Homo sapiens: one gene and its partner. The protein of the gene in region 1 interacts with the protein of each later gene in a biochemical or structural test. Each region holds a gene or a part of one and is shown in the gene's direction. Other genes may lie near its edges.

Region 1 (7,026 bases):
TGCATGTCCCACATGCTGCTCTCAGTAGCTTCTCACAGTGTCACTTAATAATCTAGCAGACAGACAGGTACAAAGACACGCGGACTCCTTAAGGACAGGGAAGCCTCATGAAACGTTAAACATCGTTTTTATTCCCAGCACCTACCATTGTGCCCCCCTTATAATAGACAGTAATGGTATAGTGAATGAATGAACAAATGAATGAGTTGAGAAATCCAGAATAATACATCACAAGCTACAGCGAATTTTTCTTGCTAGTGCTCAGGACAGGTGAAATGAATCATAACAGGTTGGTGTCCGTGAAAAGCTGACAGAGATGTGAGAGGTCCCACCCTGAGGCCAACAAAGACTCTGCAGCTCTGGCAGAACCACTAAGCTCTCAGCTCCTAGTCATCACATCTTTTTCCCTTAACCCTGCCAAGTCAACCAGATGAGGAGTGTCTTCAGGGTGGGTCTGTTGCCCCTCTTTGCCCATGCCGTCATTTGCTGTAGGAGTGAGGCAAGTCCATATGCCTTTAAGAACCGAGTAGGACAATGGAGATGATGCCAATAATCAGCCCAACCACTTCCAGTGACCGTCTGGGCTGCTGGTCCCGTGCCAGCACTCGCAGCTGGGCAGGCAATCTGCATCAGCAATTTTATCAGCGTTGACTGTGGCAACCACGAGCGTGCAGAGAAAGCTGACCATCAGCAGCATGGGGAGAGGGCCTGGGGTGCTCACGCACCAGTCAGCACACAGCTCCAGGAAGGAAAGGGGTTGCAGTGGGGGGCCTGCAGGAAGCTCACTCTGTGAGAGTAAGCCTGCAAAACTCAGTGTGCAGGCACCAGCCACTCAGTGAAAGTAAAGAAACCCTGCTGATGAGACTCTGGACACCCGCTGAGTCCCAGAGCCATTTCCTGGCTCCATCCCTAAGCCCCCCAAAGGACCCTGCTTGACTACAGAGCACCCCCATGCCATGCTGGCATATGAACATGGGGAATCCTGGAATGAGAAAGTCTTTGAGCTTTCAGGGACCTCCATGACCACCTTGTCCAGTTTCTCCATTTGTGTGGAGATAATCCAAGCAAGACAAGGAGGGCTTGGGCAATCAGAAGGTTTTGGAGCTCAGGCCTGCCAACCCTCATTTCATTCAGACTGGTCCACTGTCACCTGTTTCAGATATGGTGCTTCTACGTAAACACTTATTTGAAGACTGAAAAAAAAAGCATTTGAAAACCATTAAACTTCTCCAACCACTCATCTTTCAGATGAGGAGACTGAGGTCCAGCAGTGTCCATAAATTATTCATTACCTCCTCAGTCAATCATTATTCACCCAGTCATTCACCTGGAGGGTGGTGAAGGCAGGGAGAACCAGCCAGTGCAAGGGCCCCTCATGTCCTGCCTGGCCTTTGCTTTTCCTACCTCTGGTAACTGACTGTGCTGCCAAAGTAACACTCCGTGCTCTCTCACCTGGGCATAGGAATGCCCTCTGGCTTGGGGAGCCAAGAAAGAAGCACAAGTATTCATACCTGACCTTAGGACAGGTTGTAACACAGCTATCTTTTCTGCAAAATCAACAAGTGGGGGACCAGGCATGGTGGCTCACACCTGTAGTCCCAGCACTTTGGGAGGCCAAGGTGGATGGGTCACCTGAGGTCAGGAGTTTGAGACCAGCCTGGCCAACAAGGCAAAATCCCATCTCTACTAAAAATATAAAAATTAGCCAGGCCTGGTGGCGTGCACCTGTAATCCTAGCTACTCGGGAGGCTGAGACAGGAGAATCGCTTGAAGCTGGGGGGCGGAGGTTGCAGTGACCCGAGATTGTGCCACTGCACTCCAGCCTGGGTGACAGAGCGAGGCTCCATCTGAAAAAAAAAAAAAAAGGGCAGGGGGAAGTGTTCATCAGAAACATCATGTGGCCTTATTCCTGGTTGCTATTTCATGACCAGACATAGCTAGAAGTCATACAGCTCTTGTTTCCCTATTTTACAAATGCATCAAAAAAAATCAACAGAATATGAATATCAGTTTATTGACAGAAATCAAGAATTTGGTGGCTTCTGACTCTTCACGATTCTGAAATAATATCTGTGATAACTCTCATTGGGCATCTGCTGTCACCAAGTATTCGGTGCTAAGCACATTATGTATAAGTATACAAAATTTCATGTAATGCTTACGTCAGCCTCATAAAGTAGAGTCTATGATTCCCATACAGGTGAGAAAATTAAGGTTCAGAGCAGTCAAGTAGACTAAAGCTACTTGGCAGGTCATTGCAGAACCAGGGCTCAGAGTCGCTGAAGTTCTGAAGCATTGTGCTGCTCTGCCCCGATTCAAGTTCAATTCCAGCTAAAAAGCCCAATAATCACTGGGAAGTTTCAGTCATTGAATACAAAATCACCAAAAGATTTGACTATATAGGTTTTCTTTTTCCTTTTTTTCTAAGTTACTTGGATTTTGAAATAGCTATAGGATTCTGAGTAGATATTTTGCTGTCAAAACAACACATCCATAAAGCATTTTAAACTTCTCTTATACGCTCTAGAAATTAGGTATTTTGTTCAATTTCAATAAGACACACCCTGGCCAGGTGCAACGGCTCATGCCTGTAATCCCAACACTTTGGGAGGTCAAGCCAGGCAGATCATGAGGTCAGGAGTTTAAGACTAGCCTGGCCAACATGGTGAAACTCCTGTCTCTACTAAAGATACAAAAAATTAGCCTGGCATGGTAGCACGCACCTGTAATCCCTGCTACTCGGGAGGCTGAGGCAGGGGAATCACTTGAACCCAGGAAGCAGAGGTTGCAGTAAGCGAAGATCGCACCATTGCACTCCAGCTTGGGCAACAAGAGCAAAACTCCGTCTACAAAAAAAAAAAAAAAAAAAGGCCCTAAGCAACTCCACCCTGCCTCTAAGTGGGCCCCCTTGGAAGGCATGGAACCAGAGCACCATTTAGTCAATAATTGCTGCTATGTGCTAATGGTGCCCTGGTGGCCTCCAGAATTGACTGCAGCTTCCAAAAGTGCCCAGCATGCAACCGGAAAGTGCTGTGGATCTTTGCAGAACCCAGCTCGATGGAAATCACTGAAAACAATTGCCTTTAGTGGCACTGTTATGTAACTACTGAGCATTCCCTGAATTCAGCTTTGCACATCTCACGTAGCAGGTATGTGACGAGTGTGAAGGTATGTGGGGAATGGGTGTGTTCTTTTTTCTGCGCTATCTGCTTCCCCAGTGGAAGGAGGCCATGGTGAGGATGAGGTACACTTACCTTTAGTTAAACAAGTTCTTTTCGGAAGGAGTACCTAAGGTCATAGCTGTGCTCCTGGGAAGGGGAGGCCAGGAGGCATCTAAAATGAGGTCTTACTGATGAAGACCCCCAGGTACTTGACAAAGAGTGTTTCCAACAAAAACAACTCTCAATACCATTTTCAAGCCGAACTTGCACACTTCTATTTGTTTGGATGTGGAGAGAGAAAAGAAGAAATCCACGTGGTGGGTAAAGCACCTGGGTCCACAGCCGAAAAATCCCGGGTTTAGTCTGTTTCACTATACAAAATTGGGCCATTTACCTGAGTTCCAGGCTCCACATATAAAACACAGACATAATATTACTCACCCATGTCACTGGGCTGCTGGGGGACTCTACTAGGACAACAGAGGCAAAGCTCTGATATAAGCTCTTTGCAAATGTAAGAAGTGGTCCTTATGTCACCCAGTTTAGGGCAGTGGTTGAGAGCAGACACATTCTGATCCCTCGAATCTGAATCCTATCTTTGGCCCATCTGGAAGTGGGACAAGTTTCTTAAACCTTTGTGCCTGGGTTTCCTATCTGGGGAAGAATAAATTAACAGATGCAAGGACCCTGAACAGTCCGGTTGGAGACTGCTCCAGTCCTTGGCACCGTCCTGCATTCTGTGGGTCCCAACAGTGTGGTGAAACCAGGAAGCCGACCAGCCATCCAACCAGGGTGTGGTCCTCTGGCTGAGACTCTCTATCCCACGTCTGGGCACCCATGCTACCAGCTGGCCTTGAATTCCAGGGATGCGGGAGGACAATGAGCATGAACGAAACGTGCCGAGTGGAGTTGAGAACGTAAAGGAAGAAGGGGGCGATGAGGACCTCTCCTGGGGAGATGAGGGCTGCCAAGTCCTAAGACACAGGCTCAGGGTCTGCAGGAAGGTCGGCTTGTTGGATCGTCTCTGTGCGCTGACTTCTCTTTGCTCCCCAGGGCCTCTACCCGCTGCCCTTGCTCAACAGCACCCTGGACGACGGGAAGGCCACCCTGACCCCTTCCAACACGCCACTGGGGCGCAACCTCTCGACTCACCAGACCTACCCCGTGGTGGCAGGTACAACGCCCGGAGCCTCCCTGGCAGGTGGAGGGCGGGGGACTGAAGAGCTTGGCTGGCTGTCAGGCGGAAGGTGTGGGGCCCTGGCCTGGAGAGGAGAGGCGGGCTGTGCCGGCCGGGCCGCCAGGTGGGCCCAGGGGTCGCGCCTCCGGTCCTAGGCCGGGCCTCAAGGTGGGCCGAGGGGTCGCGCCTCCAGTCCTAGGCCGGGCCTCAAGGTGGGCCCAGGGGTCGCGCCTCCGGTCCTAGGCCGGGCCTCAAGGTGGGCCGAGGGGTCGCGCCTCCAGTCCTAGGCCGGGCCTCAAGGTGGGCCGAGGGGTCGCGCCTCCGGTCCTAGGCCGGGCCTCAAGCTGGGCCGAGGGGTCGCGCCTCCGGCCCTAGGCGGCTCCCGTAAGGTGGGCCGAGGGGTCGCGCCTCCAGTCCTAGGCCGGGCCTCAAGGTGGGCCCAGGGGTCGCGCCTCCGGTCCTAGGCCGGGCCTCAAGGTGGGCCGAGGGGTCGCGCCTCCGGTCCTAGGCGGCTCCCGCAAGGTGGGCCGAGGGGTCGCGCCTCCGGTCCTAGGCCGGGCCTCAAGCTGGGCCGAGGGGTCGCGCCTCCGGTCCTAGGCGGCTCCCGCAAGGTGGGCCGAGGGGTCGCGCCTCCAGTCCTAGGCCGGGCCTCAAGGTGGGCCCAGGGGTCGCGCCTCCGGTCCTAGGCCGGGCCTCAAGGTGGGCCGAGGGGTCGCGCCTCCGGTCCTAGGCCGCTCCCGGGTCTCCGCGCTCCCTCCTGTGGGAGAGGCGGGCGCACACACGCCTTCCGGGTCTCTCCATTTTCGCTGCAGAAGCGCAGCAGGGAGGTCTAGCTTCTCTCTCCCCGCCTTGCCACGCCTCGTGGGCCCCGGCTCTCCCCAGCCCAGACTCTGAGGGCAGCTGAGCCTGCCCCGCGCCCCGCCCGCACCCTCCACATCCCACGGCTTGGCTTGTGCGTGTTCCCTCCCCGCCATCTCACACCCCTCTCTCCTTGTTGTCTCCCTCCCTCCGGCAGATCCTCACTCACCCTTCGCCATAAAGCAGGAAACCCCCGAGGTGTCCAGTTCTAGCTCCACCCCTTCCTCTTTATCTAGCTCCGCCTTTTTGGATCTGCAGCAAGTCGGCTCCGGGGTCCCGCCCTTCAATGCCTTTCCCCATGCTGCCTCCGTGTACGGGCAGTTCACGGGCCAGGCCCTCCTCTCAGGTACGACAGGGAGGTCCCGGGGCCATGCAGCTATGGCGGCGGGTGGGACGGGGGTCCTCAGGGCAGACCGCCAGCCCCCTCTCTGGCCTCAGTCTCATCCACCCCCACCCTGTTCCCTAATTCCTCCGGCAACTTTTGGAGGCGCCAACATGAAGTTCTCTGTGACGGGGAAGACATGCTCGGAAGGGGCGGATGCTGTAGGGGTGCCGGGGATGCACCACCCCAAGACCCCATGGAAAAGCAGGAACCCTAAGGCCGGGAGCCGGGTGCTGTAACGTAGCAACTTGGCCTTGGTAAATGCATAAATAGATAGAAGGAAAAATGAACATTTTGGAGGGAAAAAGGAATTGGCTTTTGGAGCCCATTTCTGGATCAAATTTCTAAAAAGGCCAAGGGTCAGTCCCAGTTGTGTTTCCATGATGCAGCTATCTTCATTCCTAGCTTAACAGCATCACCGGGAGGACAGTCAGACATCTGTTAAACATGATAAATTCAGTGATTCAACAACTTGAGAGGAGTGGGGGACCTCCCATCAGGAACCTCAACTGCCTCAAAATATTTAAAGCTGGAAGCACCGACCGGGCGAGGTGGCTCACCCCTGTAATTCCAGCAGTTTGGGAGGCCGAGGCAGGTGGATCACAAGGTCAAGAGTTCAAGACCAGCCTGGCCAAGATGATGAAACCCCATCTCTACTAAAATTCAAAAAATTAGGGGGTGTGGTGGCAGACACCTGTAATCCCAGCTACTGGGGAGGCCGAGGCAGGAGAATCGCTTGAACCCAGGAGGCATAGGTTGCAGTGAGCTGAGGTGGCGCCATGGCACTCCAGCCTGGGTGACAGAGCAAGACTCCATCTCAAAAAAGAAAAAAACAAATAAATAAAAATAAGTAAATCTGGAAGCACCTGAGGGAGCCTCTAGATCAAACCTCTTATGCTGATGAGGAACCTGGCCCAGGGAGGAGAAGGTCCCTGCCAAGGTCTCTGGGCAGGAGCACCATCTGTAGCTGGTTGAGGCCTGGGCCTGCACTGCATGAGTCAGACCTCAAGGGGAGCTGGCTCCTCCTGGCAGAAGGACCTTCGCTCATCCAGCCAGGGCCTGAGGAATGGCTGAGAGTCAAGCGCTTGGCTTGGGTTGGAGAGGGCCTGAGATGCAGTGAAAGTGGGAAGCAGAGACCCATATGGTCTTCAGATACCTCAAGGGCTTCCACAGGGATAGGACTATTTTAGATGTGGGCCCAGTGGGGGCCCAGGACCAGGGAAGGAAGCCAGCTAGCTCTCAGTTCAGCATTGGAGGAATCTCTTTAATAGCGGCACTGTCTCCAAGGAGTGTGGGTATTTAGTGACAGAAGTAAATGCCTCTTCACCTCCCACACCCTCCTACCCCGACGACCTTGAAATGCTGGAGCAGAGACCAGTGCGTGGGTGGGGTGTGTGAGACCTGTCACAGAGGCAGCCCAGAGTCAGACAGTCCATCTGGACCAGTGG
Region 2 (7,026 bases), on another chromosome or scaffold:
TGCAATTAGGGAAACTTGGAGGCTGAGAGAGGGAAAGTGACCTGCCCCAGATCACACACCGAGGCAGGTGATGGAGCCGATGTGAGCCCAGGCCTCCGCTTTCCGCTCTTTTTTTTTTTTTTTTTTGAGATGGAGTCTTGCTCTGTTGCCCAGGCTGGATGGAGTGCAGTGGCGCAATCTCGGCTCACTGCAAGCTCCACCTCTCGGGTTCACACCATTCTCCTGCCTCAGCCTCCCAGGTAGCTGGGACTACAGGCGCCTGCCACCACGCCCGGCTAATTTTTGTATTTTTAGGAGACAGGGTTTCACTGTGTTAGCCAGGATGGTCTCCATCTCCTGACCTGTGATCCTCCCGCCTCGGCCTCCCAAAGTGCTGGGATTACAGACGTGAGCCACCGCACCCGGCTCCACTCGTTTTTTAAGAGAGGGTGTCGCCCTGTTTCCCAGGCTGGAGTGCAGTGGCACAACAATGGTTCATTGCGGCCTCCACCTCCCAGGCTCAAGTGATCCTCCAGCCTCAGCCTCCTGAGTAGCTGGGACTACAGGCACGGACCACAACACCTGGCTAATTTTAACACTTTTTGTAGAGATGGGGTCTCGCTGTGTTCCCCAGGCTGGTCTTGAAGTCCTGAGCTCAAGCGTTCCTCCTGCCTCGGCCTCCCACAGTGCTGGGATTACAGGCATGAGCCACTGCGCCCGGCCTGCTGTTCACTTGAATGCAGCATTCCACAGCATGGGGGAACCCGGATGAAGGCTGTGTGAAGGCCCACACTGGACAAGGACCCCCCACGGGGCCTTCCCCATCAGACTGGAGCTGTCATTCCCCCACAGCACAGGATGGACAGGGGGAACGTCCAGGCTCGGGCCAGCCCCCAGGAGTCCAGGCAGCCCTGGAGTGTGGGGAAGGGAAACAGGCCCAGCTCAGCCTACTGACCCCGCTGTCTTCCTGTTCCAGACACGACCGACTTCCAGGAGAGCTTTGTCACCTCCGGCGTGTTCAGCGTCACTGAGCTCATCCAAGTGTCCCGGAGTGAGTGTTCCCGTCAGCCCTGAGCTGGGTCTTGGAGAGGGGAGGGGGCCGCAGGGAGGAAGGAGCCCACCCCCCTCACCCTACTCCTTGTCCTTTCCAGACAACCCCCTGTGTCACTAAGCCAAGGTTCCTAGAAAGGGAGGTGGCCAGGCCCTTCCCAGAGCCCAAGGTCAGGGCTCCCTCCCACCTCTCCAGGAAACAGAATCTAAATGCTGGATGGCAACTAAGGAAACTTCTGCCCCAGCATCCCTCCTCCTCCCTGGGGCCTCCACTGTCCTGTCCCAGGAGACCCCAAAGGACCCCGCCCCTCCTGTCCCCTTGCTTTCTCTGCTGACCTGCTGGGGACCCAGCACATTCCGTCACACACTGTCTGAATCCCACCCCAGCGAGTCCTGGGCGCTGTCCTTCTTTAGCCCTGACTGACACCTTCCCTGTCCAGATCAGCAGAGCCTGGCCTCCAGCTTTGGCTACACCTCTGCCTCACAGTGTGCTCTTGGCCTCTCCCCATGGCCTTGGTCCTCTGATCCATAGAATAAAACTGGTTTCAGCCACCCTAGGAACCGGGCCAATATGGGAAGGGGGTCCCCCTTTGGACTGCACCCAGTGGCTTTCCCTACCTCTCTAAAGCAAACCGCAGCACTGGGCACTGCTTCCTGCCTCACTCTCCTCTGTCACCCTCTGCAGCACCCGTGGTGACTGGAACAGGACCCAACTTCTCCCTGGGGGAGCTGCAGGGGCACCTGGCATACGACCTGAACCCAGCCAGCACTGGCCTCAGAAGAACGCTGCCCAGCACCTCCTCCAGTGGGTAAGTACCCAGGTCCCCACCTCTGGGCATTTCATGACCCCATTCATCAACCCATCCCCTCTGGCCCGAGCTGACTCATTCCTCTCCCTGGAATACCTCTTTTCACGATTCACCTGGCCTGAGAAACTCCTACTCATCTCATCCTTCAAAACCCAGCCAGCCCCACGTGCCTCTTCCCCTAGCCCTGACAGCCCACCGTGGGCTCCCCCAGCCTCAAGTCCTGCCGGCTCAGCCAGCCCTTAGGACCCTCCCCACCCAGAAGAATGCAGACACAGGTTGTTGCTGAGATATGCTTTGTGACCTCGAGCAGGTCACACTGTGTGTGCCCCAGTTTCCCCATCCATAAAATGGGATCATACCCCTAACAGGCAGTTCTGAGGACTACAGGTGGCCAGGAGATTAGCCAGGCTGCCTGGGTTTTGGTCTCCACCATGCTAGCTTGGTGTCCGACCTGTGTTGAGACCCTCCCTGCCTCTGGCCCGGGTGTCCCATCCAAGCAATGGACAGGTTGGAACAGGCGTTCGTAGGGAACGGGCTGAACGCCCGCGGCTCCCGCGATGTCTCGCGATACTACCTCCCTCGCCCCCGCTCACTTAAGGACCGGAAGTAGCAAAGCCCGCCGTCGCGCCCCCCGCCCCGCGTCTCCCTGGTAACCAGCCTCTCCCCTTCCCTCGCCCATAAGGAGCAAGCGGCACAAATCGGGCTCGATGGAGGAAGACGTGGACACGAGCCCTGGCGGCGATTACTACACTTCGCCCAGCTCGCCCACGAGTAGCAGCCGCAACTGGACGGAGGACATGGAAGGAGGTAGGGCTGGTGGCGGGGGCGGAGCCGGCCTTCCGGTCTGAGTCACCGTGGCGGGAACTACGTCTTCCGGCAGCCACTGCGCGGGCGCCGCGGGGCAGGAAGCCGGCCTGGAGCCGCGGGGCCTCCTGGGAATTGTAGTCGTCCCGAGCTGCGCTTGGCTGGAAGTACGGTCCGGGTTCGCGTTCTCGGATCTCTTTGGTTCCGCTGCGGCGAAGGAGGGCAGAGACTGTCCCCTGCCTGACTCTCCTGCCCTCCGGCCGTGAATGCCACATCTCTGTGGGGTCCCCGAGCTGCAGGATGGACTCAGTAGTGACTCTGATCAACAGGGCGCCTCTTCCTGGGATCTGTCATAGAATCCCTCGTCTGTAGGGACCCTGTTTGTCCTCTTCCCCTCTAGAAGGTCCTGAGATGCCGGATCCCTTCTCATTGGGGTCCTTCTTGAGGTTACTTTTTTTTTTAACCAGGTTCCCATCTCCATGGGATCTTCTGGTTCTGCAGGAGACTCGTCTCCTTTCTGTAGGGTCTCCATTCCCATGGCGTCGTTTTCTAGGAAGATTTTATCCTCTTGCTTTTCTGTCTTCAGAAGGGTCCTCTCTGGGGTGTCTTTCTTTCTTTCTTTCTTTCTTTCTTTTTTTTGAGATGGAGTTTCGCTCTTGTTGCCCAGGCTGGAGTGCAATGGCGCGATCTCCGCTCACTGCAGCCTCCACCTCCCTGGTTCAAGCAATTGTCCTACCTCAGCCTCCCAAGTAACTGGGATTACAGGCATGCACCACCATGCCCGGCTAATTTTTTCTATTTTTAGTACAGACGGGGTTTCACCATGTTGGTCAGGCTGGTCTCAAACTCCCGACCTCAGGTGATTCGCCCGCCTCGGCCTCCCAAAGTTCTGGGATTACAGGCGTGAGCCACCACGCCCGGCCTCTGTTTTTGTTTGTTTGTTTGTTTGTTTGTTTTTGAAACGGAGTCTCGGTCTGCTGCCCAGGCTGGAGTGCCGGGGTGCAATCTTGGCTCACTGCAGCCTCGACCTCCCAGGTTCAAGTGATCCTCCTGCCTCAGCCTCCCAAGTATCGGACTGCAGGTGCATACTGCCATGCGCCGTTAATTTTTTTTTTTTTTTTTTTTTTTTTTTTGGTAGAGATGGGGTCTCACTATGTTGCCTAAGCTGGTCTTGAACTCCTGAGTTCAAGTGTGATCTTTCCTCCTGCCTCGTCCTCCCAAAGTGCTGGGATTCCAGGTGTGAGCCACCATGCCGGGCCCCTCTTATTTTTTTTTAATTTTTGTTTTTTGAGATGGAGTCTTGCTCTGTCACCCAGGCTGGAGTGCAGTGGCGAGATCTTGGCTCACTGCAACCCTTCCTCCTGAGTTCAAGCAATTCTCCTGCCTCAGCCTCCCAAGTAGCTGGGATTACAGGCACCCACCACCACACCCGGCTAATCTTTATATTTTTAGTAGAGACAGTGTTTCACCATGTTGGCCAGTCTGGTCTCAAACTCCTGACCTCAGGTGATCCACCCACCTCGGCCTCCCAAAGTGCTGGGATGACAGGTGTGAGCCACTGCTCCCGGCCACCTGTAGGATTTTTAGAAGCAGTATAACATTAGGATTAAGAGGTCAGATTCAGGCATTGGAGAGACCTGGGTTCAGATCCCAGCCCTGCCCGTGTCTAGCTCTGTGTGCTGTGTAACCTGGGGCACATCACTTAACTTCTCTAAGCCTCAGTTTCTTCATCTCCACAATGGGGGTGATGTGAATAATGTTCTTTGGGAGCTACAGGAGGAGGAAGGGTAGGATGTGCGTGAAGCAACCGTCTGGCCCATGCGACATACCCGGGAAACGGGAGGTCACTGTCATCCACGTCTTTATAACATTCCTGTCTCTGACCAGGCTCGGTGGCTCACGCCTGTAATCCCAGCACTTTGGGAGGCCGAGGCAGGCGGATCACGAGGTCAGGAGATCGAGACCATCCCGGCTAACACAGTGAAACCCCGTCTCTACTAAAAATACAAAAAAAATAGCCGGGCGTGGCGGCGGGTGCCTGTAGTCCCAGCTACTCAGGAGGCTGAGGCAGGAGAATGGCATGAACCCGGGAGGCGGAGCTTGCAGTGAGCTGAGATGGCGCCACTGCACTCCAGCCTGGGTGACAGAGCGAGACTCCGTCTCAAAAAAAAAAAAAAATTCCTGTCTCTTTCCGGCACTCGGACGCATCTAGTTGTGACATTTCAGGTGCCAAGGCCCCTCCCTTCCACAGTGTGGGCTCCCAGAGCAGGAACATTCCTAAAGGGTCTCCATCCCTCAGGGGACCTGTCTCAGTATTTATGAGGTTCTTTTTTTGTTTGTTTGTTGTTTTTGTTTTGAGATGGAGTCTTGCTTGTTTTGAGAGATCACGCCAGTGCACGCCAGCCTGGGCAACAGAACGAGACTATGTCTCAAAAAAAAAAAAAGAAAAAAAAAGTCACTTCTGTTTCGTTTTTTTTGTTTTTTGTTTTTTGTTTTTTTTTTGAGACGGAGTTTCGCTCTTATCACCCAGGCTGGAGTGCAGTGGTGCAATCTCGGCTCCACCTCCTGGGTTCAAGTGATTCTCCTGCCTCAGCCTCCCGAGTAGCTGGGACTACAGGCGGGCACCACCACAACCAGCTAATTTTTGTATTTTTAGTAGAGACGGTTTTTACTATGTTGGCCAGGCTGGTCTTGAACTCCTGACCTCAAGTGATCCGCCAACCTCAAGTGATCCGCCCATCTCAGCCTCCCAAAGTGCTGGCATTACAGGTGTGAGCCACCGCACCCAGCCGTGACTTCTCATTAACTCTGTAATTGATGAGGCTGTCAGAATGTAAACTGCACGCTAATTAAAGTGAAAGACCACCTTTGCGATGAGCCAAAGCAACCCTGAGAGGAAAAATTGTAGCTTTAAGTCTATTTATTAGGAGAGGAGAAAGGTGGAAAATAAAGAATCTAGCTTTCAACAGAGAAAACTCAAAAAGAAAACATTTTAAGCTCTGGAGCTCAGTCTGACTTTTCTGCCCGGCTGCTCACTGGCAACCCCTTCCACTGGGGAAGGAGGTGGTAGCAATGGGGGGAGGACAAAGAGGAAGCCCCCACCAGCTTCTGCTCTGTGATTGGGAATCGCAGAGCTAGCAGGGAATGTCAGAGGAGGTCTGTGCTCCTGCAGCTTCCACTTGATTACCTCAGGGGATGGCAAACTCACTCCCTCCTGAGGGTTTCTTTTTTTTTTTTTTTTTTTTCTTTTTGAGACAGAGTCTCGCTCTGTCGCCCAGGCTGGAGTGCAGTGGCGCCATCTCAGCTCACTGCAAGCTCCGCTTCCCGGGTTCACGCCATTCTCCTGCCTCAGCCTCCCGAGTAGCTGGGACTACAGGCACCCACTACCACGCCCGGCTAATTTTTTCTATTTTCAGTAGAGACGGGGTTTCACCGTGTTAGCCAGGATGGTCTCGATCTCCTGACCTCGTGATCCGCCCATCTCGGCCTCCCAAAGTGCTGGGATTACAGGCGTGAGCCACCGCACCCGGCCTCCTCCTGAGGGTTTCATCCTCAGTGTAAAGCCCTCCTGTGTGCTGGCCCTACCTGAGGCCCTGGGGACACAGAGATGATCCAACCCACTCTTGTCCCTACCTTCCAGGGGCTAACAGCCTAGTGAGGGAGATGGGTTTTTATCCAGGTGACTACAGCCCAGAGGAGGAGGCACAGAAGACAGTCAGGGGGAACAAGAGGACCCTGATAGAACTTGGAAGAAAAGGGAGGACCTCCCCGAGGAGGAGAATCAGGCTGACAGAGCAGTGAGGAGCTCGGGCAACTGGCTTCTCTGCTTCTCCAGCTGTGTGACATTTGGCAGGTTCCTTAACCTCTCTGCCCCTCAATTTCCTCTGCTATACGATCAGGTTGCTGGCCGGGTGCAGTGGCTTACAACTGTAATCCTAGCAATATGGCAAGACCCCATCTCTACTTAAAAAAAAAAAAAAAATAGCATCACATAGTGGTGTACACCTGTAGTCCCAGCTCCTTGGGAGGCTGAGGTGAGAGGATTGCTTAAGACGGGAGGTCAAAGCTGCCCTGAGCTATGATCATACCACTGCACTCCATCCGGGGCAACAGAGAAAGACCCTGTCTCAAAAAAAAAAAAAAAAAAAAAAAAAAAAAAAAAAAAAAAAAAGGCTCACCTGTAATCCCAGCACTTTGGGAGGCCGAGGCAGGCGGATCACCTGAGGTCAGGAGTTCGAGACCAGCCTGGCCAACAGGGTGAAACCCCATCATTACTAAAAACACAAAATTAGCCGGGTGTGGTGGTGGGCACCTGTAATCCCAGCTACTCGGGAGGCTGAGGCAGGAGAATCACTTGAACCTGGGAGGCGGAGGGTGCAGTGAG

Evidence for each region. The genes of interacting proteins can lie anywhere in the genome.
Region 2: the proteins of PAX8 (region 1) and NFIC form a complex in vitro, tested with the Homo sapiens proteins (one study listed by BioGRID).

Annotation. Positions count from the first base shown.
Region 1 is NC_000002.12:113,233,910-113,240,935, reverse strand, and holds part of PAX8 (paired box protein Pax-8), read left to right. Parts: intron 1-93; exon of another isoform or gene 94-1,847; intron 1,848-2,723; exon of another isoform or gene 2,724-2,846; intron 2,847-4,214; coding exon 4,215-4,335; exon of another isoform or gene 4,336-4,667; intron 4,668-5,353; coding exon 5,354-5,542; intron 5,543-7,026. UniProt on the Homo sapiens protein: Transcription factor for the thyroid-specific expression of the genes exclusively expressed in the thyroid cell type, maintaining the functional differentiation of such cells.
Region 2 is NC_000019.10:3,432,563-3,439,588, forward strand, and holds part of NFIC (nuclear factor 1 C-type), read left to right. Parts: intron 1-955; coding exon 956-1,030; intron 1,031-1,714; coding exon 1,715-1,838; intron 1,839-2,520; coding exon 2,521-2,645; intron 2,646-7,026.